7 linked regions of the Homo sapiens genome follow. The protein of the gene in region 1 purifies or fractionates together with the protein of each later gene. This does not show direct contact. Each region holds a gene or a part of one and is shown in the gene's direction. Other genes may lie near its edges.

What was found.
Region 2: the proteins of PINX1 (region 1) and ALB purify together in Homo sapiens (affinity purification with mass spectrometry; 2 studies listed by BioGRID and IntAct, with this or other methods). This does not show direct contact.
Region 3: the proteins of PINX1 (region 1) and PABPC4 purify together in Homo sapiens (affinity purification with mass spectrometry; one large-scale study listed by BioGRID and IntAct). This does not show direct contact.
Region 4: the proteins of PINX1 (region 1) and TSR1 purify together in Homo sapiens (co-immunoprecipitation; one large-scale study listed by IntAct). This does not show direct contact.
Region 5: the proteins of PINX1 (region 1) and FXR1 purify together in Homo sapiens (affinity purification with mass spectrometry; 2 studies listed by BioGRID and IntAct, with this or other methods). This does not show direct contact.
Region 6: the proteins of PINX1 (region 1) and CAPRIN1 purify together in Homo sapiens (affinity purification with mass spectrometry; one large-scale study listed by BioGRID and IntAct). This does not show direct contact.
Region 7: the proteins of PINX1 (region 1) and C1orf174 purify together in Homo sapiens (co-immunoprecipitation; one large-scale study listed by IntAct). This does not show direct contact.

What each region holds. Positions count from the first base shown.
Region 1 is NC_000008.11:10,815,876-10,819,375, reverse strand, and holds part of PINX1 (PIN2/TERF1-interacting telomerase inhibitor 1), read left to right. Parts: intron 1-3,500. UniProt on the Homo sapiens protein: Microtubule-binding protein essential for faithful chromosome segregation. Mediates TRF1 and TERT accumulation in nucleolus and enhances TRF1 binding to telomeres. Inhibits telomerase activity. May inhibit cell proliferation and act as tumor suppressor.
Region 2 is NC_000004.12:73,407,287-73,410,786, forward strand, and holds part of ALB (albumin preproprotein), read left to right. Parts: intron 1-1,307; coding exon 1,308-1,519; intron 1,520-2,068; coding exon 2,069-2,201; intron 2,202-3,025; coding exon 3,026-3,123; intron 3,124-3,500. UniProt on the Homo sapiens protein: Binds water, Ca(2+), Na(+), K(+), fatty acids, hormones, bilirubin and drugs. Its main function is the regulation of the colloidal osmotic pressure of blood. Major zinc transporter in plasma, typically binds about 80% of all plasma zinc.
Region 3 is NC_000001.11:39,563,554-39,566,790, reverse strand, and holds part of PABPC4 (polyadenylate-binding protein 4), read left to right. Parts: intron 1-1,412; coding exon 1,413-1,685; exon of another isoform or gene 1,686-1,721; intron 1,722-2,017; coding exon 2,018-2,105; intron 2,106-2,248; coding exon 2,249-2,368; intron 2,369-2,868; coding exon 2,869-2,955; intron 2,956-3,049; coding exon 3,050-3,177; intron 3,178-3,237.
Region 4 is NC_000017.11:2,321,896-2,324,176, reverse strand, and holds the end of TSR1 (pre-rRNA-processing protein TSR1 homolog), read left to right. Parts: 3' UTR 1-303; coding exon of another isoform or gene 304-522; 3' UTR 523-831; coding exon of another isoform or gene 832-1,041; 3' UTR 1,042-1,781; downstream 1,782-2,281. Other genes in the region: SRR (serine racemase), read right to left, coding at 304-522, 832-1,041. UniProt on the Homo sapiens protein: Required during maturation of the 40S ribosomal subunit in the nucleolus.
Region 5 is NC_000003.12:180,943,670-180,947,169, forward strand, and holds part of FXR1 (RNA-binding protein FXR1), read left to right. Parts: intron 1-3,500. UniProt on the Homo sapiens protein: mRNA-binding protein that acts as a regulator of mRNAs translation and/or stability, and which is required for various processes, such as neurogenesis, muscle development and spermatogenesis.
Region 6 is NC_000011.10:34,089,731-34,093,230, forward strand, and holds part of CAPRIN1 (caprin-1), read left to right. Parts: intron 1-448; coding exon 449-559; intron 560-798; coding exon 799-948; intron 949-2,175; coding exon 2,176-2,326; intron 2,327-3,500. UniProt on the Homo sapiens protein: mRNA-binding protein that acts as a regulator of mRNAs transport, translation and/or stability, and which is involved in neurogenesis, synaptic plasticity in neurons and cell proliferation and migration in multiple cell types.
Region 7 is NC_000001.11:3,893,773-3,897,272, reverse strand, and holds part of C1orf174 (UPF0688 protein C1orf174), read left to right. Parts: exon of another isoform or gene 1-1,978; intron 1,979-3,500.

The sequences.
Region 1 (3,500 bases):
AGCCAGGGCCCTTGGTGACCATAGAACAAAAAAGAAGACTTGGTTTATTGATTCCTGGCATTTTTCCAGACTGACAGAAATCTTTATTTCTAGGGTGGTGGTTTGTTTCTTAATAGTAATAATTTTTAGGGAGTCCAGAATTACCAGTGGTTAGAAGTCTCATTAGATGATTCCCTGTGCAGATTGGGACTGAATTCCTGGGTCTTTTAGCCCCTGTCTGCCCCTGCACCCTCAGCAGATGGAAGCAGCAGGCTGGGAAAGGATACCTGGCTTTGGTGCCTGCGCGGACTATGCTGAGTCACGGGATAGGCAGTGGTCACTAGGGAGGAGCCGCTCTGACATCCGGCCGTGCCGGCTGCTCCTTCACAAGGGGCTGCTGGAAAGAGCCATGGTCAGACAGGCTGGCTTCTGGTTGTACCTCTGCCCTCAGTGCTCACCGTGAGACCTGGACTACGCCACTCTTCCTTGTTCACCAAGGACATGGCCTCTGGCTTATCCCAGCCTCCTCTCCAACCCCTCTTCCTTGACTCTCTCAGTCGTCTCCGTGTCCTCAGGAAGAACTAGAATTCCAGTCCCGCGCCTCTTGAACTCCATCTCCTTTGCTCTGCCCAACAGCTGCCCCCACCCCACGATCACACCCTGAGCCTTTGTATCAACTCCACGTCCCTCCCATACCTTGAGATAACCCCCATCTCCCCAGCCCCGTGGGGCTCACGTGCCTTCTGTACTGGCGTTTCCACATCCCTGCACGTTGATCCTCTCTTCTGCCTGCTGCTCACCCACCACCCCCAGCCTTTGCCCTCCCGGACACCCTCTATGAAAATGTACAGTTGAACAGATCAGGGAGGGAAATGTTACTTGTGGGCTTTTGTAGAACTTTAAGAGAATTTATGTGTTTGGTGCAGAAAGCTCTTAGTTGTAAGAGATCAGAGGTTTCTGATCCTCTGGCAGATTTCTGTTTGAGAATTTATTGGGTGTTGGGTGCCTTGAGGTTTTCAACACTGTGTGGTGTTACTTGACTCTTTGGTAGCTAAGTCATGTTAAAGTGAGACATCCACCTGTGTTTGAGGAGCTTCAAAAGCAGTTCCCTAATGCTAGCCCCAGGAAAATCTCTTTTGGTCCAGTGTGTGTAGAGATGATCAACCTTGATGCAACATCGTGTTTTGTGTGAGATTTCCATTAGTCACATCTCTCTCTCTCTTCCAGTTCAGTGTTTTCTTCCAGTGATAAATTTAGGTCCTACCTGTTGGTGAGGTGGTCTTCTACCAGGCCCTGCTCTCCGTCTGTAGCCATAGTTCTCAACAAGGTCGTCCTGGCATTGCCTAATGAGCTTTAAACAAATGCTAATGCCAGGGTTCTGCCCAAGACCGATTAAATTAAATCTTCGGTCAGGGTCCAGGTATCTATATTACAAAAGGAGAAAAATTTAAAAAAAATTTTTTTTTAATTCCTCCCCAATTGTTGCAGCAGTTATTCTGACGTTCAGTAAGGAGCGAGGGTTGAGAACACGGGGATAGCCTGCCATGCAGCTGTACTGAGAGCTTCTGGCTTCCGGGTCGTGAGTAACCCTGAGGACAGAGCTCCTCAAGTCCTGCCGTGTGTACAGGTCTTCCCTGTCAAACTGCAGATTCCAACTCAGGAAGCCTGGGCGGGGGCTGAGAGCCTGTACATCCCCATCCGAGGAGCCCCCAGGTGATACTGCTGCTGACCTGTGTGCCACACTGAGGAGGTCGCGTCTAGGCAGTATTTTCCTTTTGACATGCCTGCATGTGTGCAGAAAACAGAATCTATTTAAATGTAATCACATTTAAGACAAACAGAGTATCTTTCTATAAAGCAAAATGACCTCTACATTTATCTTTGACATCCTTGTGGATGTTCATATGTTAAGTTTGCTTTTATTGAGGTATACCGGTACCTTCCTTGAGTAGACTATTGCTAAGAAACCTTAACCTTGTTAGTTACAACAGCCCTTATAGTCAAAGGCAGGAGGACTTTGATCAGATTTGTTTGAAAATACAACCTCTTTCGGCTCCCATCCTCAGTTGGCGGGAATGTTGTATGTTGTTGCTTCGCTTGACTCTCATAGCTCCGTCGGTCTGGATTTATATTTGGCATTGCAGAGGCCAAGGTGTTGCTGGAGGTCACCTCCCTCCAGAGTCCTGGAAACCGTGGTAGTGCGGGCCACTAAGGTAGCAGTAGCTCTGTGGGTGCTCTAGTTAGGTGCCGATGCTGATCTGTCTTCAGCATCCAGAGTTCCAGAACGTTGGCGTTAACCATGTTCTTGGCTTGGGTAACAGCATCACCCTTGCAATAAGGGAAGCCTACTGATTTTAATTTCTACAGCTCCTGACTGCCATCGTAGAATTCCAATTTTATTAAGCACCTGTGTGCCAAACCCTGTGCTGGATTTTTCTCATTTCATCCTCACAGCAATCCCGTCATGTAAATATCAGTATCTCCTCTGTAGCAGTGAGGAAACTGAGGCACAGAGAGAATTGTTAGAATGCTCCAAAATGGCACACGTGGGCTTTTAAATCTGTGTCCGTCCAATTCCAAAATCAGCCTTTCTCCGATAATACAGCAGTCCTGCCGAAGTTAATGAACTCTTTCTCATTTAACAAAAAATCTACATTGAAGGGGGTTAGTTAGGCCTTAGCAGCTTCTGTTGAGCTTCACCAGAGACACCAGTGGTTGATGCTGTATCGTAACTTTGTGGGAAAATGATTGGCTGTTGCTATTTTGTGGAAAATAATGGTTTAAATTTCAAAACTTCTTTACCTTACCTGTAGTCAGAGGTGAGCTGTTAGGGGTTGACAAGCATGTGACCAGGTGTCCAGGCCAGCCTGAAGAACGACTTGACTTCCTTATTGGCTGGAGGCTGAATTAAGAAAGAGCTTGAGCATCTGGAGCATAGATGTTGTGTTGCTTGTGTATTTTTTCGTCTCTCTATTGAACTGGATGATCTGAATGTATTTATATCTAAGAAACATCTGCAGCCCTTGATTAATAGTCATGAGGGTTTTTTCTTTAACTTTTTATAGATGAACAGGATGTTGCAAAGATAGTAAAGGGGTTCTGTGTACCCTTCATCTGGTTTTCCCCAGTGGTTACATCTTACGTAACTACAGTACAGCATGATGAAACCAGGAAATTGGCATTGGTACCATCTGCTCATACAGCTCTGTGCCCCTTTATCACATTTGTGGATTGTGTAACCATTATTATCTCAGTGAAGATCCTGAACTATTTCATTACCACCAAGGCCTCCCTTGTGCTAACCCCAATCATAGTTGCATACCCCTCCAACACCGCCCGTGACCCTGACAATCACAGCTGCCGACAGAATCGTCTGATTAGGAGTGGAATATCGTGTGTACAGACCACATGGTCTCTCCGTTTGATGCTGAGGCTGCTCAGATCTGCAGGGGTCACTACCCAGTGCTAAAGGCCGATTGTCGTTTCCATGATCTACTTCCTGCACTTAGCCATGCTCAGTG
Region 2 (3,500 bases), on another chromosome or scaffold:
AACCAGCATTATACTCTTTGATTCTATGAGTTTGACTACTTTAGCTACCTTATATAAGTGGTATTATGTACTGTTTATCTTTTTATGACTGACTTATTTCCCTTAGCATAGTGCATTCAAAGTCCAACCATGTTGTTGCCTATTGCAGAATTTCCTTCTTTTCAAGGCTGAATAATATTCCAGTGCATGTGTGTACCACATTTTCTTTATCCATTAATTTGTTGATTGATAGACATTTAGGTTGGTTTTCTACATCTTGACTATCATGAATAGTGTTGCAATGAACACAGGAGAGCTACTATCTCTTAGAGATGATATCATGGTTTTTATCATCAGAAAACACCCACTGATTTCTATGCTAATTTTGTTACCTGGGTGGAATAATAGTACAGCTATATATTCCTCATTTTAGATATCTTTGTATTTCTACATACAATAAAAAAGCAGAGTACTTAGTCATGTTGAAGAACTTTAAACTTTTAGTATTTCCAGATCAATCTTCAAAACAAGGACAGGTTTATCTTTCTCTCACCACTCAATCTATATATACCTCTTGTGGGCAAGGCCAGTTTTTATCACTGGAGCCTTTCCCCTTTTTATTATGTACCTCTCCCTCACAGCAGAGTCAGGACTTTAACTTTACACAATACTATGGCTCTACATATGAAATCTTAAAAATACATAAAAATTAATAAATTCTGTCTAGAGTAGTATATTTTCCCTGGGGTTACAGTTACTTTCATAATAAAAATTAGAGATAAGGAAAGGACTCATTTATTGGAAAGTGATTTTAGGTAACATTTCTGGAAGAAAAATGTCTATATCTTAATAGTCACTTAATATATGATGGATTGTGTTACTCCTCAGTTTTCAATGGCATATACTAAAACATGGCCCTCTAAAAAGGGGGCAAATGAAATGAGAAACTCTCTGAATGTTTTTCTCCCCTAGGTGAATTCACCTGCTGCTTAGAAGCTTATTTTCTCTTGATTTCTGTTATAATGATTGCTCTTACCCTTTAGTTTTAAGTTTCAAAATAGGAGTCATATAACTTTCCTTAAAGCTATTGACTGTCTTTTTGTCCTGTTTTATTCACCATGAGTTATAGTGTGACAGTTAATTCTTATGAAAATTATATAGAGATGGTTAAATCATCAGAAACTGTAAACCTCGATTGGGAGGGGAAGCGGATTTTTAAATGATTTCCTGACCAAGCTTAACCAGTATATTAAATCCTTTGTACTGTTCTTTGGCTATAAAGAAAAAAGGTACTGTCCAGCAACTGAAACCTGCTTTCTTCCATTTAGCATACCCTTTTTGGAGACAAATTATGCACAGTTGCAACTCTTCGTGAAACCTATGGTGAAATGGCTGACTGCTGTGCAAAACAAGAACCTGAGAGAAATGAATGCTTCTTGCAACACAAAGATGACAACCCAAACCTCCCCCGATTGGTGAGACCAGAGGTTGATGTGATGTGCACTGCTTTTCATGACAATGAAGAGACATTTTTGAAAAAGTAAGTAATCAGATGTTTATAGTTCAAAATTAAAAAGCATGGAGTAACTCCATAGGCCAACACTCTATAAAAATTACCATAACAAAAATATTTTCAACATTAAGACTTGGAAGTTTTGTTATGATGATTTTTTAAAGAAGTAGTATTTGATACCACAAAATTCTACACAGCAAAAAATATGATCAAAGATATTTTGAAGTTTATTGAAACAGGATACAATCTTTCTGAAAAATTTAAGATAGACAAATTATTTAATGTATTACGAAGATATGTATATATGGTTGTTATAATTGATTTCGTTTTAGTCAGCAACATTATATTGCCAAAATTTAACCATTTATGCACACACACACACACACACACACACTTAACCCTTTTTTCCACATACTTAAAGAATGACAGAGACAAGACCATCATGTGCAAATTGAGCTTAATTGGTTAATTAGATATCTTTGGAATTTGGAGGTTCTGGGGAGAATGTCGATTACAATTATTTCTGTAATATTGTCTGCTATAGAAAAGTGACTGTTTTTCTTTTTCAAAATTTAGATACTTATATGAAATTGCCAGAAGACATCCTTACTTTTATGCCCCGGAACTCCTTTTCTTTGCTAAAAGGTATAAAGCTGCTTTTACAGAATGTTGCCAAGCTGCTGATAAAGCTGCCTGCCTGTTGCCAAAGGTATTATGCAAAAGAATAGAAAAAAAGAGTTCATTATCCAACCTGATTTTGTCCATTTTGTGGCTAGATTTAGGGAACCTGAGTGTCTGATACAAACTTTCCGACATGGTCAAAAAAGCCTTCCTTTTATCTGTCTTGAAAATCTTTCATCTTTGAAGGCCTACACTCTCGTTTCTTCTTTTAAGATTTGCCAATGATGATCTGTCAGAGGTAATCACTGTGCATGTGTTTAAAGATTTCACCACTTTTTATGGTGGTGATCACTATAGTGAAATACTGAAACTTGTTTGTCAAATTGCACAGCAAGGGGCCACAGTTCTTGTTTATCTTTTCATGATAATTTTTAGTAGGGAGGGAATTCAAAGTAGAGAATTTTACTGCATCTAGATGCCTGAGTTCATGCATTCATTCCATAAATATATATTATGGAATGCTTTATTTTCTTTTCTGAGGAGTTTACTGATGTTGGTGGAGGAGAGACTGAAATGAATTATACACAAAATTTAAAAATTAGCAAAATTGCAGCCCCTGGGATATTAGCGTACTCTTTCTCTGACTTTTCTCCCACTTTTAAGGCTCTTTTTCCTGGCAATGTTTCCAGTTGGTTTCTAACTACATAGGGAATTCCGCTGTGACCAGAATGATCGAATGATCTTTCCTTTTCTTAGAGAGCAAAATCATTATTCGCTAAAGGGAGTACTTGGGAATTTAGGCATAAATTATGCCTTCAAAATTTAATTTGGCACAGTCTCATCTGAGCTTATGGAGGGGTGTTTCATGTAGAATTTTTCTTCTAATTTTCATCAAATTATTCCTTTTTGTAGCTCGATGAACTTCGGGATGAAGGGAAGGCTTCGTCTGCCAAACAGAGACTCAAGTGTGCCAGTCTCCAAAAATTTGGAGAAAGAGCTTTCAAAGCATGGTAAATACTTTTAAACATAGTTGGCATCTTTATAACGATGTAAATGATAATGCTTCAGTGACAAATTGTACATTTTTATGTATTTTGCAAAGTGCTGTCAAATACATTTCTTTGGTTGTCTAACAGGTAGAACTCTAATAGAGGTAAAAATCAGAATATCAATGACAATTTGACATTATTTTTAATCTTTTCTTTTCTAAATAGTTGAATAATTTAGAGGACGCTGTCCTTTTTGTCCTAAAAAAAGGGACAGATATTTAAGTTCTATTTATTTATAAAATCTTGGACTCTTATTCTAATGGTTCATTATTTTTATAGAGCTGTAGGCATGGTTCTTTATTTAATTTTTTAAAGTTATTTTTAATTTTTGTGGATAC
Region 3 (3,237 bases), on another chromosome or scaffold:
TCTATCCTTGCTTATCTGCCTAGTAGTCAAGTTGGCATTTGTTAAGAGAGCAGAAGAGCCATACCTTGAATTGTCCCCATTTTCATTATGATGGTGTGGCATTTTTATTCACATACCTTACTGGCCCATCTCATTGGTAGAGAGTTATGGAGTGATGCACTTCTTTACTTCCCTATCCTCCACTTCAGGAGGCTCTCTGGGCCATTAACTAAGACATAAAACAATGACAGTCACACCAGAGAAGACAGTGAATAACCTTGTCTATTAGGAAGAATGCCATTTGTGAATGATGAACTTAATGTGGGAAAAGACTGCCTGAACCAGTAGACCTGTGGTTTTGTAGCTGTTTGGAGTATTTCTTGGAAATTGAGCCTCAGGAAGGCAAGTGAGACTAGAATCTAGGCTGCCTATCTCTGAGCTGGTCATCTCATTGAATTAATGGTGGCAGTCATTGGTTACCTGAACATTTTAGGACTCCTGTCCACACGTGGTATTCCAAAAGTGTTATCCTGACGTTGGTAAGAGCTTGTTAGAGTTTGTCCACCGAGGTCTTGAAGCATATGAGATATGAAAATAAATTGCTCAGTACTACTCTCAAGATGTTTTGTGGTTACCCGGAGTAGCTATCCACCAGGTATCAGGAAACATCTTTGAGTTCCTGGTTTTATTATTAGCCATATCATAGTGTTTCAGAACTTTAGCATCACCTGGGGACTCAAAGAAAACACCTAGATACCTTAGAGGTTGTGACTTAGTTGGTCTGGGGTAAATCCTGTGCCAGAACCCTGACCTAGACTCAGTGACTGCAGCAGAACCCAGGCTTTCTGGTTCTTCTGAATAGTTCCCTCCCCACCCAGGGACATCCTTTTTTTTCCTATTTGTAGGTTTGTTTTGTTTTTTTTGTTGGTTTGGTTGGTTGGTGTTTTTGTTTTGTTTTGTTTTGTTTTGTTTTGTTTTGTTTTGGAGATGGAGTCTCGCTCTGTCGCCCAGGCTGGAGTGCAGTGGCGCGATCTCGGCTCACTGCAATCTCTGTCTCCCGGGTTGAAGCGGTTCTCCTGCCTCAGCCTCCTGAGTAGCTAGGATTACAGGTGTGTGCCACCACGCCCAGCTGATTTTTGTATTTTTAGTAGAGACGGGGTTGCACCATGTTGGTCAGGATGGTCTTGAATTCCTGACCTCGTGATCCACCCACCTCGGCCTCCCAAAGTGCTGGGATTACAGGCATGAGCCACTGCGCCTGGCCCTTTGTTTTTTTGAGATGAGGTCTCACTACATTGCTCAAGCTGGTCTCAACCTCCTGAGCTCAAGCAGCCCTCCCACCTCAGCCTTCCAAAGTGCTGGGATTACAGGCACAAGCCATCACACCCAGCCAGGGACACCTTATTTCTTAAGTAGCTGGTCTCATTTTGTAGGTAATGCTGGAGGATGGAAGAAGCAAAGGGTTTGGCTTCGTCTGCTTCTCATCTCCTGAAGAAGCAACCAAAGCAGTCACTGAGATGAATGGACGCATTGTGGGCTCCAAGCCACTATATGTTGCCCTGGCCCAGAGGAAGGAAGAGAGAAAGGCTCACCTGACCAACCAGTATATGCAACGAGTGGCTGGAATGAGAGCACTTCCTGCCAATGCCATCTTAAATCAGTTCCAGCCTGCAGCGGGTGGCTACTTTGTGCCAGCAGTCCCACAGGTGGGTGTGCTGTTTGGTCACAGCTCTTGGGAACCTGCCGGCTGGCAGTATTCTGCAGTGGTTGGGGAGAGGGATTTTTCGTTATTAGAGTTCTAGAATGTCACAATAAGGACCCTTCAAGTAAAAATGAAGGACTTACCCATGGTCACAAACACACACCCACAGTGGCAGTGGTAGCATAAAACAGTCCCCATTAGCTGACCCCTCAGCTCTTGAATAGAAAGAACATTTAAATAATTAGCTTAGGTCCTGGTTAGTGAGATGAGATGAGATACTTCTCTAGGATGGGTTCAGTCCTTAAGGGGGTGTTTGGGTATTCTTCTGTCTTACAGGCTCAGGGAAGGCCTCCATATTATACACCTAACCAGTTAGCACAGATGAGGCCTAATCCACGCTGGCAGCAAGGTGGGAGACCTCAAGGTAGGTGGTGGGGAACAGTAATTGACAGCCCAGGATATACCTGTCCTGGTCTCCCCTGCCTTTCCTTCTTCCCCACTCTGAGGCACAGCCTAGGTTCTGGTCCACATCACTTCTCAATGATGTGCAATTTTTCTCTTCACCAGGCTTCCAAGGAATGCCAAGTGCTATACGCCAGTCTGGGCCTCGTCCAACTCTTCGCCATCTGGCTCCAACTGGTAATGCTCCGGCCTCTCGTGGCCTCCCTACTACCACTCAGAGAGTCGGTGAGCAAACTGGCCTTTAGAAGTGTGGCCTGGGGAGGAGGGAGTCAGGATGACTAGGCTCTGTCCTGGGTTGGTCAGTTTGTTGGGCTCGAATTTATCGAGTCCTGGTTCTGTAATCTTAGCTGTGTGCTTAGGTGGCCACTTCAGGAGCAGAGAAACAGTATGAGTTCTAGGTGTGTCAGTTGCTTTTAACATTCTTTGCTCATCGGTGACCTATGTGAAAAAGGTTAGTTGTAGAAGTTTGCTAGCTGGATGACCACAGAGGCAGCTTGTTCTTTTGGGTGGGGTGAGGAATACAAGGAAACAGTGTATACAGAATATGTCTTGTATTCCAAGATGTGGAAAGAGTTGTATGTTATCCTTTGGCTCATCCTCGAAAGTAGTAGTGGCCCCCTGTGCAATGTGTTGCGTAAACGTGCTTTGAAATTTCTCCTTCCGTGGGACGTGGCCAGTTGGACATCTGCCGCCAACACTGATGTGCATTTGCTGGTCTGTTGTAGGGTCTGAGTGCCCGGACCGCTTGGCTATGGACTTTGGTGGGGCTGGTGCCGCCCAGCAAGGGCTGACTGACAGCTGCCAGTCTGGAGGTGGTATTGGATGCACACAGAAGGGGGAAAGATGGGATTTGACGGGTCTTTGCCCAGACTGATGGGCTTTAATTGTATTTGTTCTTTCCCTAAGGCGTTCCCACAGCTGTGCAGAACTTAGCGCCACGCGCTGCTGTTGCTGCTGCTGCTCCCCGGGCTGTTGCCCCCTACAAATACGCCTCCAGTGTCCGCAGCCCTCATCCTGCCATACAGCCTCTGCAGGTGAGGTTCACCAGACAGAATGCTTAAAAGGATTTCCCCCATTTCCACTTGATGTAAAAG
Region 4 (2,281 bases), on another chromosome or scaffold:
TCTTACCGGTGCCAGTCAGTACTCCAGGGATGGGAGGCACAAGTTGTGATTGGGCAAAGTTTATTTTCTATGTCAGCCTGTCAGTCCACTGCCCCATTTTGCAAGACTTTTTTTTAGCCTTGACAAAATGTCTCAGTTAAGTATAAAAGTTTTTCCACTACTTAGTCCAAAAAAAACTATTAAATCTTAATGAAATAGCCACTCTCCATTAAGAATCTGATAACTAAGAGTTGACAATACTAGGAAACAAAATGTCTTCAGTATCTAAAGACACTGAATTCCCACCATTTCCTTTTCTGTAAATTAAACAGAAACAGACTGATAAGAAGCTGGCCTTTCAGCCTGCTTCACCCAAGTTATGGAGGAGGTTAAGTCTACATTTCCACCACTGAGCACAATACAAATGTTCTTTACTTCTGGGGAAACAGTTTGAAAATGTTGAGACAGCACAGCAGCCACTCCAACACCAGCTGTAGGTTCAATGAGTAGTTTCATCCTCTCCCACACCAGCTGGGTTGCACACTGTTGATATGGAAGGGAGTAGGAATTAGTGAAAGGGGAGTCTAGTTGGTTTACCTATAAAGTTCAGATGAGAATACGTGTCCAGTTTGAATTTTCTTATCACTGTGTACACACGCTTCCCAAAGCTTTTCTTTAATTCTGACTCTGCTTCTGTCAAGAGGGTTGTCATTAATACATCTAGGGTACCCTCCCATGTCATGAAGTTACCTAGTCAGGTTCCCGTGGGTCACTTGCTACTCCTAAGGGAAGTTTCTTCTGCCTAAGAAGTTACACCATGCTTTGCTATTTCTTTTCTTGCTGGAGCCTCACCTTAATTTCATCCTCTGTGACAGTGAAGATATCATCCACAAGGTCCCTGATAATAGGCCAGGTGTTCAAGCCAATGCTGGATTTGACACCATCTGCTATGGTTTCTGGAGGATAAAGATTGGGCATCAGTTTCCCCTTCAGCTTGGACTGGTAGCAGTCATCTGCATTTGAGGGTTCAGCAGCATATACCTTCACACTAGGTTTCAGAGCCTGGGAAGAGGAATATTAAGACATCTTAACAACAAACCACAACATTGCCTGCATGTCTAAAAGAAAATATGGGCCTGGTGTGGTGGCTCACACCTGTAATCCCAACACTTTGGGAGCCCGAGGCGGGTGGATCAGCTGAGGTCAGGAGTTCAAGACCAGCCTGGCCAACCTGGTGAAATGCAGTGTCAACTAAAAATAGGAAAATCAGCCAGGCGTGGTGGCAGACCCCTGTAATCCCAGCTACTCAAGAGGCTGAGGTAGGAGAATCACTTGAACTTGGGAGGGGTAGGTTGCAGTGAGCTGAGATCACACCAAAATGGGGTGGGGCGCAGTGGCTCACGCCTGTAATCCCAGCACTTTGGGAGGCCGAGGTGGGCGGATCACGAGGTAGGGAGATCAAGACCATCCTGGCTAACACGGTGAAACCCCGTCTCTACTAAAAATACAAAAAAAAAAAACAAAAAAAAACTAGCCAGGCATGGTGGCAGGCACCTGTAGTCCCAGCTACTCGGGAGGCAGAGGCAGGAGAATGGCGTGAACCTGGGAGGTGGAGCTTGCAGTGAGCCAAGATCGTGCCACTGCACTCCAGCCTGGGTGACAGAGTGAGACTCCGTCTCAAAAAAAAAAAGAAAATAGGCACAATAAGTAATACATTTCTGCCCAAGTAAGAGCCTTCCCTTTTGTGGATGTAATGAAAATATCTTCAAGCACTTTATAAATAAATTATATGTCTGATACTAGCCTTCCATTGCCTGGATCACATCTGATTGTCCTGGTAATTTGAGAAAAGGGTAGCCCCTTGGTATGGATAGTAGCTTGATGACATGGAATTCAGGGAAAAGACTATGATGGTGTCACTTGTAACTGCTTTTGTGCTGTAAAATTGTCATGGATTAAGAAGAGAGTTGGCTGGGTGCGGTGGCTCACACCTGTAATCCTAGCACTTTGGGAGGCCAAAGTAAGGACTGCTTGAGCCCAGGAGTTCCAGACCAACCTGGCCAACACAGCAAGACCCCATCTCTTAAAAAAAATAAAAATATTAGAAATAATAAATAGGCCGGGCGCAGTGGCTCACGCCTGTAATCCCAACACTTTGGGAGGCCAAGGCGGGTGGATCGCAAGGTCAGGAGTTCAAGACCAGCCTGACCAACATGGTGAAACCCTGTCTCTACTAAAAAAAATACAAAAAAATTAGCGGGGTGTGGTGGCTCATGCCTGTAATCCCAGCTACTCAGGAGGC
Region 5 (3,500 bases), on another chromosome or scaffold:
AAGTTTAAAATGGAGTTCAGCATTTCATCGTTCAGTGAGAAAAGCCTCCAGGCAGTTGAGATGGTTTATTTAGAAAGCCAGATTCATGAATGATTATGCTTTGGTGAAAATAGAATAAGGGGGTTAGGTAGTTTTAAGACATAACATTTTCAGCAAATGAGGCTTGATTTACCCACATTAACAAGAGATATTCGAACTGCCTCTCTGAGATAGTTACTCGAATGGGCACCTTCTTTTGGTTGTTAGGATATTCTTTTTTTTTTTGAGATGCAGTTTCGCTCTTGTTGCCTAGGCTGGAGGGCAATGGCGCGATCTCAGCTCACCGCAGCCTCCGCCTCCCAGGTTCAAGCAATTCTCCTACCTCAGCCTCCCGAGTAGCTGGGATTACAGGCATGCACCACCACGCCTGGCTAATTTTGTATTTTTAGTAGAGACAGGGTTTCTCCATGTTGAGGCTGGTCTCGAACTCCTGACCTCAGGTGATCCACCCACCTCGGCCTCCCAAAGTGCTGGGATTACAGGCGTGAGCCACCGCGCCCGGCCTAGAATATTCTTTTTGTAACCCTCAGTATACTTGGGAAAACAGTCATCACTGATCGTTTACCAAATAATTTTGTAGCAGAAAGAATGAAAGGGTAGTAAGGTCGTTATTGGACCTTTTTTTTTTTTGAGACAGGGTCTCGCTCTGTCACCCAGTTTAGAGTATAGTGGCATGATCATGGCTCACTGCAGCCTTGACCTCCCAGTCTCAAGTGATCCTCCTTCCTCAGCCTCCCAAGTAGCTGGGACTAGAGGCATGCACCAACCACACCTGGCTAATTAAAAAAAAATTTTTTTTATAGAGACGAAATCTTCCTGTGTTGTCCAGGTTGGTCTCAAACTCCTGGGCTCAAGCAGTCCTCCTGCCTCAGCCTCCAAAAGTGCTGGGATTACAGGCATGAGCCACTGTGCCCCCCATTATTAGACTTTTTTAAAGGCCATTATTGACTCCATGCTGGAGTATAGTGAAGCAAACACAACTCACTGCAGCCTTGACTTCCTGGGCTCAAGAGATCCTTCCACCCTACCCCAGGCCCCCAAGTAGCTGAGATTACAGGCACATGCCACCATGCCTGGCTAACTTTTGTATTTTGCATAGTGATGGTGTTTCACCATGTTGTCCAGGCTGGTCTCGAACTCTGGAGCCAAAGTGATCTGCCCACCTCAGCCTCCCAGAGTACTCGGATTACGGGCGTGAGCCCCACCACGCATGGCCTTATTAGACATTTTAGTGAGGGTTTAAACATAGCAAATCTAACTTTTTCATATTTTCCAGGTTTTGATGATATATGTATCTACAATGAATGCAGTTCTCTAAATGTAACTAACTGCTCACTGTTATACATGAACCTAGAACATACCAATCTTATAAATATTGATAGCAGATTTAAAATATATCTCTAATAAATTCTAGCTTATTCTGGTTATTCTTACAGTTGGATCATCAGAATGCAGTCCTTGAATACTTTGGAACTTTTAATGACATCTCATTCTATTGAAGAAGGGATAGCCATCTCTGTGCTGTAATTTTAGCACATTTAGTCAGTTGGATTGACTAATCTATTGAATATTTTTGCATTTCATTATCTTTCTTTTTCGAGTTACCTTTGTATACACATCTGCTTTTGACATTTCCACTTACGAAGTACATTTTGGCACACAAACATTTCTTAAAATTTTATCTTCAATTTTTATTTTACCTTTTTTTTCCCCCTGGACAGGGTCTCGTTCTGTCACCCAGGGTTGAGTGTAGTGGTACAATCTTGGCTCACTGCAGTCTCAACTTCCCAGGCTCCAGCAATCCTTCCACCCTAGCCTTCCATGTAGGTGGCACCACAGGTGCACGCTACGACACCTGGCTAATTTCTTTTGTATTTTTGATAGAGATGGGGTTTCATCATGTTGTCCAGGGTGGTCTTGAACTCCTGAGCTCTCAAGCAGTCGACCTGCTTTGGCTCCCCAAAGTTTTGGGATTATAGGTGTAAGCCACCGTGCCTGACCACAAACATCTTAAAAGATGGAAGAATACTGTCATATACCCTTTTAGCAAACCAGGATGATCTGGGTTCTTGTTGGAGGATTTTGCATGATGGAGTCTCAGTTGAGTCATTAACTGGATGAGAATACACATCATCTTTCCCTCTTCTCCTTAGAAATACATTGTTTGAGAACAATGTTTGAGAAATACATCGTTTGAGAAATACATCGTTTGAGAAATACATTGAGAACATTCATCTAAGATGTCACCATCTCAGACTTCATAGTCTGAGGTTTTGCTTTGTAAGATAATTTCACATTTATCAGTACTCTTTGCATCTGTTGTCTGATATCTCTAATAATTAGAAAGGCCTTCCTCTGTAAATTTTTCTTCTCTTCGCAATTATGAGTGAAAAAAATTCATAATTATCAACTGGTCAACGGTAGCTAAAAGCAGACTACAAGGATGGTGTCTTTGGTCTTTTTGAACTGTTTTGAAAGAGATGTGATACCTCAGGCTATGCAGTAAGGAAACTGTATGAACATTAACAGTTTATTTCACTGTTGTATCCTCTAGGTGATGCCATCATTCCTCTGTTCCATTTTAGTCTTTATTTAAAGCATAGCTGAGAATAACTGATGAATGTTGATGAAATTGTAAAGTGTTTCAAGATATAGGAAAAATAAGATCACTAGATTCTACCTTACATTTATAAAAGGGCCCAGTGGATACATATAATAATTACAGAATAAGGGTGAGTTCTGTTCTAGTCTTAGAGAAGTAAACTTTCTTGTTTTTTGGAATATGTCGTAAGGAAGAATATAAGTCATGAGATATTGATCCCTTTGAATAGTTAGATCTGTTTATAAAAGAAATGGAAAAGCTAAAATTGAGTTTAACGGACCCTGATTGGTATATTGGACTTCCTGCTTTTTCTCATAGCTTTTTTCTAATCATGGTATACGATAAAGTTCATTAGTAGGTTTTGGTTTATTCATTTCCAGTTCCAGTATTCCTACCACTTCCAAGATTACTCTCAAATCATCCTGATAGAAGCTTCAGGCTTTCTAAAAGTCTTTGTTTTTAGTTGTTTGTGTTTATCTCCCAGATGGCTGTTAACAGCCACTGATAGGTTTCCCTGATGATCTCTGCAAGGACAGTCAATCTTGGTTTTTATTGGTTTTTAGTTTCTTCTCAGCCCCCCTTTTCTACCTTTCTCTATACTGAAAATATAATACGTTAAAGAAGCTCTGCTGTGTCATAAGAAATAACTCTAATCCCAAGTGAAAGCTTCTGTGACCTATTACGTTAATAAAACTGATATTTATAGATATAAAGAATATGACTTGTTTTTTTGTGGATAGTTTTTATTTTGTTTTTTTTGAGATGGAGTTTTGCTCTAGGTGCCTAGGCTGGAGTGCAATGGTGTGATCTCTGCTCACTGCATCCTCCACCCTCTGGACATGATTCTCCTGCCTCAGCC
Region 6 (3,500 bases), on another chromosome or scaffold:
TTATTGTTGTGGATAGCTGTCAGCCTTTATTTTTATGTTTAGGTTCATTTTTCCTCTTGATGACTTTTTAAGTTTTTCTTAAGTCTTGCATTTTAAATAATGTATTATAATATAATAAGCCTTTTTTATTTAGAACTGAGAATTTCAGAAGACATAGTTTAGACATAATTCTAAAATTTAGTGCAGATTTCTCCATCTTAGAAGTACTTGTGGAGGGCTTTTATAACGAGACTTGGGTTTATTTAACGTCGAGCTTCAAAAATATATATATTTTTGCAATTTTTAGGTTTTATATTATACAAATTTAAAGAGAGATGGTAATATTAATTTCTCCCTTCTTTAGCAGTTGTATCTATTTCTTAGCCTTATGCGTCTTAGAGGTAACTTGTTTTTTTAACAGTCAATTTTGTAAGCAGGAAGAAGCTTTTATTTCTTTACTTATGTCTAGGTTCCTTTGGTATCATCCACAAGTGAGGGGTACACAGCATCTCAACCCTTGTACCAGCCTTCTCATGCTACAGAGCAACGACCACAGAAGGAACCAATTGATCAGATTCAGGCAAGTTCTGTTACCGGGTCACATACATTTGATGAGGCACTTACTCATGAATTGAACAGATGTACATTACCATTAATATAATGATTCTTCTTTTTGGACCTACTTTGCTTTCATGAAATATTTGAGTTTGTTAATACATATAAGTTTGAGATTAATTTACCACTTTAGTACATCTGTTCACTTTTTGTTTGGCTAAGTTTAGTTTACCGCTAAAGTGCATCTATTCACTTTGTGTTTAGGCAACAATCTCTTTAAATACAGACCAGACTACAGCATCATCATCCCTTCCTGCTGCGTCTCAGCCTCAAGTATTTCAGGCTGGGACAAGCAAACCTTTACATAGCAGTGGAATCAATGTAAATGCAGCTCCATTCCAATCCATGCAAACGGTAAGCAAATTAACTAACATTAATTGCCTAGTATGTAATATGAATCATGGTAGATTTTCTTTTCTTTTTTAAAGGTCTTCATTTAACTGTGCTTGAGTCTGCATCTTTCATTAACTGTAGGGTATATTTAATTGAACATAAACTGATTATTCCAGAGATTAACTGATACTAACGGATATTCTAGAGATAAATTTTAGCCTTATGAGTGATGTGCCTGTATCATCTTAATTTGTAGTTTTACCCTTTTGATTTGATTAACAAAAGCTTAAACATTCAGAGAAATAGACTAATATAACATCCATATAATCATTACCTAGATTTAATAGTTGCCCTGTTTGCTTAATCTTTTATTTTACTGAAGTATTTTGAAGTTTCAGATGTTATGCTTTACCTTGATTCTTGAGCAAGCACCTTTAGAGAATTTCTAGAAAATAATAATAATACTATAATCTGTGGGGTGCAGCTAAATCGGTGCTGAGAGGAAAGTTCATAAGATTAAATATTAAAATAACTTTTGATTAATATGTTAATAAAAATGAAAAAACATTCAACCCTGTTAAAGTTCATAGAACAAACTTCTGTAAGTGGTACTGCATCCAGGAGTTTGTCTTATTTATTTATTTTTTGAGACAAAGTCTTGCTCCGTCGCCCAGGCTGGAGTGTAGTGGCGTGATCTCAGCTCACTGCAATATCCGCCTCCTGGGTTCAAGCGATTCTCATGCCTCAGCCTTTGGAGTAGCTGACACTCCAGGCATAAGCCACCATGCCCAGCTAATTTTTGTATTTTTAGTAGAGACGGGGTTTCACCATGTTGGCCAGGCTGGTCTTGAACTTTTGGCTTCAGATGATCTGCCTGCCTCAGCCTCCCAAAGTGCTGGGATTACAGGTGTGAGCCACTGTGCCAGGCCAGAGTTTGTCTTTTAAAAAGATTTCTCATATATGTAAAAGCATTTCCAAGGCTGCTGATTGCATGTCTTTTTATTTTTTTTAATTCCCTACTTCCATTTCACAGCATATTATACTCCCCTTTAAGTACTATATGGTATATATGTCTTTTTCCACATTGAATCACTTGGAGGGATTTTTGTATGTGTGTGTGATGTTTTTGTGTTTGAGACCTCTGTGATGTCTTTATTTATGTCTGAGGTAAAACCACCATTGAGTTTGGCCATGTTATAAACCAGAGAATAAAAGGATGAACTAATCATTTACTTTATTTACTAACAGGTGTTCAATATGAATGCCCCAGTTCCTCCTGTTAATGAACCAGAAACTTTAAAACAGCAAAATCAGTACCAGGCCAGTTATAACCAGAGCTTTTCTAGTCAGCCTCACCAAGTAGAACAAACAGAGCTTCAGCAAGAACAGCTTCAAACAGGTACGAAATCCAGTGTCACCTCATTGGCTCCTTGCTTTCCAGCACAGTTATTGACAGTGTTAGGACAGTTTAGACTTCAGAGTGGTGGTGTCCAAGAGTTTCTGTTTTAGTAGCAGACCATATGAATTTTTCATTTCAGATCATGAGTTAAATTGAGTCTGTACTTGTATATGTGAATTATGTGCAATTTTTGGAGGCTTTATAGCCATTTTCCTTTTGTCACTGAACTTACATAATATCCCTGTTGCATTGTATAATTTATATGGAATTAAATTTGTTACTTGAATTACCATAAAGTGTACTTTTTTTTTTTTTTTTGAGATGGGGTCTCACTCTGTCACCCAGGCTGGAGCGCAGTGCCGTGATCTCGGCTTACTGCAACCTCTGCCTCCTGGACACAAGCAATCCTCCCTACCTCAGCCTCCCAAGTAGCTTGGGAATACACGCATGTGCCACCACGTCCAGCTAATTTTTTGTATTTTTGGTAAAGTTGGGGTTTCACCATGTTGCCCAGGCTTGTCTTGAACTTCTGAGCTCACGTGATCTGCCCACCTCAGCCTCCCAAAGTGCTGGAATTAAAGGCGTGAGCCATTGCACCTGGTGATAAACTATACTTTTAATTGTTAATTGATTGAAGGCTTTTAGCATGATATCTGGCATTGAGTCAGTTAGACAAAGTTAAGAAAAAACTCATGGTGGCTGCATTTCGTGGACTGGGTTGAAACATAATCTATTTTGTCAAGTAAGGTCATAATTTGGCTAGTTACCATACCTGTCACGATAGTAATGTAGGTAGGGACGCTTTTATGTATTTGAGACAGGTTCTCACTTTGTTGCCCGGGCTGGAGTGCAGTGATGCCAGCATAACTCACTGCAGCCTCAAACTCCTGGGCTCAATGATCCTCCTCCCTCAGCCTCCTGAGTAGTTGGTAGTTGGGACTACAGGTGCTTACCGCCATGGCTGGCTAATTTTTTTTTTTTTTTTGTAGAGATAGGGTCTCCAGGAGCTCACTATGATGCCAGGCTGATCTCCAACTCCTTGCCTTGAGCGAACTTATTGTCTCTGTCTCCCAGAGTGGTGGGATTATGGGCATGAACTACCTTGTCTAGCTCGATAGAGATACTTTAGATTTTTTTTTATATATATATTTTTTTAAGAAATGGGGTCTCTGTC
Region 7 (3,500 bases), on another chromosome or scaffold:
ATCTTGATATTGTTTATCATGGCTACCTTGGTCCTTTATATATGTATAAATCCAACATCTGGTCACTCTCACAGACAGCTTCTGTGGCCTGCTTTTATTCCAGTGTATGAGCCTACTTTTCTTTTTCTTTGAGTGCTTCATAATTTTTTGTTGGAATTATGCCTTCATAATTTTTTTGACATTTTAGATAATACATTTTAGCAATTCTGGGTACTGTCCCCAACCCTGGGGCTTGTCATTGTTAATATGCTTATTTGTTTAGCAACTGGGTAGATTGTTTTGATAAAGTATATTTCCCCTGCCACAGTGTTCAGCCTGTGATGTTGCTGGTGGGGGGTGGCACCCAGCCACTCTGGATGACAGTGGTTTTAGTGAGGTCCTTTTCCTCTTTCCCTGACCACATCCAGCTGTTGAACTTCGCTAATGCCAGGTTATTGTGCTGTTCTCAGCAACAGCCTGGGCATAAGTTGCTCTACAAACTAATCCAATCAAATTGTGGCTTCTTCGAAGGGATACTTTCTAAGGTCAGTGTTTGGTTAGTTTGTTCTGTGTCCAAGAGGCCTCCTCCCAGCCGTGTTAGTCTCTGGTTCTCTTCTGCGAACTGGTTGGCCTACAATTTGGCCTATTGCTTGATTCTCCACTGCCTCCACCCCCTTCGTCACAGCATCCACGGTACTTGAACAGCTCCCTTAGGCCGGAACTTCTCCACATTCCATGGCAGGGAATTTGGTGCCTTTGGGCAGGTGTAAGAGCTGTCTGTTTAGTTGCCTGCCTCTCATCCCAGGCAGAGCCTCTGAGCCAGGGCCTGCAGCTGAGGACAGTAATGGGCTCCTCTCTGAATAGGGGCTGGGGGAGCTAGCAGCAGCCTGAGATCCTCCAAATGTGTCTTCCCCAGCCTGGAACCACCTCATATCTAGGACGGGGTTGATGGGGCCCCAGTCTTCTCCGTTCACTGGGCGGAGCCTCTTGCAGAGGCTTAAACCGTACTGGTAGAATGGAGCCAAGGTGAAGCCTTCATTCTACAAATAGGGTCTGAGCAGAAAGGAGGGCCCCTCTTCTCAATCCTACTCACTCAGGACCTGGTCTCAGTCACAGGTGGGATGAGAGCAGAAAGGGAAGCACTGCTATCCTGCCTCTCCTGGGAAGACACCCCGCTGCCTGGGAGCTGGGGAGGTGGCCCTGTGTTCTTGGCTGCAGCAGGATGGAGCTCAAGTGCCACAGACTCTCCGTGTCCTTACCAAATGTATGTAGGTGTTCTGGAGCAAGTGTTTCTTCATTTGCTGGGTGCCCATAGGACCATTTCCAAAGGCTCTCTAAATGGCTGTTTTGGGACTGCTCATTACTCTCTGAGAAGGTCAGTGAAGCTCCTCGAGCCATCATGTTGAAGTCAGTCTCGGCCAGCCCTTTTGGAGAAACCATGTTTGTGCTTCTGACATACCAGTTATTAAACAATCTACTGGAATGAGGAGAATCTCAATGATGAGAAAGTCTTTCCTTTTTTGGACTGTGGGAGCAGTCCAAGCTGCCCAGCTGCAGAGCAGGAATCTGCAAGTGAGACTGTGACCAATTCTTGACATTTTGGAGTTGACACCTTGGAGGTGGTTAATCCATGACGAAACTGAAGCTAAGCCGATCTCATGTTTTGACTCCTGTCAATCCGGAGAGGACAGCAAATGGCCTGCTCAGGTGTCTGTTAACAGCCAGCGCTTCCAGGCCCACCAGATCCTCAGGTGTCTGTTAACAGCCAGCGCTTCCAGCCCAGCAGATCATCTGGCTTTTCTCTGCAGAAGGGGCCAAAAGGTCCACCTGATGAACCTGTTGCACGCGAAAAGTTCAGAACCACTGCTGCCAAGATGCTGACAGAAGCCTTGAGAAGCACCTGCTGCGGGAAAAGACGTGCAGGCGTAGAACACAGAGCGGGTGGCAGCTTCTTCAGTTCAATCCCCACCTCAGGCAGTTGTTGGGGGTCATATCTAGGGTGAGCTGTGGTGATGGAATAGAGATTTGGAAGCCAGGCATCACTCGTATAACCTCATAAGCTCCTTACCCAAGTTGTCCTCATCTGAAATGGGTGTGCCACTCCTTTAAAGCTGTTCAGGCACCGAGCTGGGCTCCCCACACAGCATACTCCAGCACAGAGCAGCAAAGCGCCCGGAGGAGGGCTCACAGCAGGGAGGAGAGGTGGGGCAGTGGCTTTCTAGGTCAGAGATGTCTTTTCCCTACGAGGCACGTGATGGCGTTTTAGGGAGATGGGCTTGTTTAAGACCCAGTGGGAGGATTTTGATGAGAGATGTTTATGGCAACTCTTAGCAAGTTCTGTAACCTCTGTTGCCTCAGTCCCCTTGGTGTAACTGTGACCATGACGTCTGCCGGGGCTCTCAGCAAAGCCCTGCCCTTGTGAGAGGACGGAGGCGCAGCCCCCGGTGTGCTGTGGTAGCAGGCACTTCACCCAGCCTGTGGGCAACTGGCGTGTCCTGTGTACAGCAGGCGGGCGTCCTGGCCTCCGGTGGGCTGCTGCCTGCTCTTCTCCCTCCTGTTTCAGACACACACTCTGACTGCCACAGTATCACAGGACCTTGGAGCTGCCACCCCACAGGGTTTCTGGAGCTGTCTTGGGCTACGGGGTGCATGGCTGAGACAGATTATTTCTTTTTTTTTTTTTTTTTGAGACGGAGTCTTGCTCTGTCACCCAGGCTGGAGTGCGGTGGCGCAATCTCGGCTCACTGCAAGCTCCGCCTCCTGGGTTCACGCCATTCTCCTGCCTCAGCCTCCCAAGTAGCTGGGACTACAGGCGCCCACCACCACGCCCGGCTAATTTTTTGTATTTTTAGTAGAGACGGGGTTTCACTGTGTTAGCCGGGATGGTCTCGATCTCCTGACCTTGTGATCCACCTGCCTCAGCCTCCCAAAGTGCTGGGATTACAGCCGTGAGCCACCGCGCCCAGCCGAGACAGATTATTTCTGTGTTTTATTTTTTTGTTTTTTTCCTTTTTTTATTTCTCTTATCTGCTGTTGGGCAGGGCACTCTTCATCCGTCCCCTTCTGGGTTCCAGTTCTAGGGCCTGTTGGCAGCAGCTCTTGGGCCTTTCCCGGCCATGTCAACCTGCATTGCTCCTGTTTGTTGCTTCTACTACTCACACTCATTCCTTTCGAGTTTTCTAAGTGCAGTGTGGTATTGTGGACTGGATTCTGGAACAGAAAAACGGTTCATGGAGAAACCGATAAAATACAAATAAAATCTATAGTTTAGTGAAGAGTACCGTAATGTCACTAATTTCTTAATGTTGACAATGTCCTGTAGTTGTTTAACATTAGTGGAAGCTGAGTGAAGGCTACATGGCAACTCCCTGTACTATTTTATTATTATTATTTTTTCAGAGACACTGTCTCACTCTGTCACCCAGGTGGAGTGCAGTGGTGCAGTCATAGCTCACTACAGCCTCAGACTCCTGGGATCAAGTGATCCTCTCACCTCAGCCTCCCACATAGCTGGGACTACA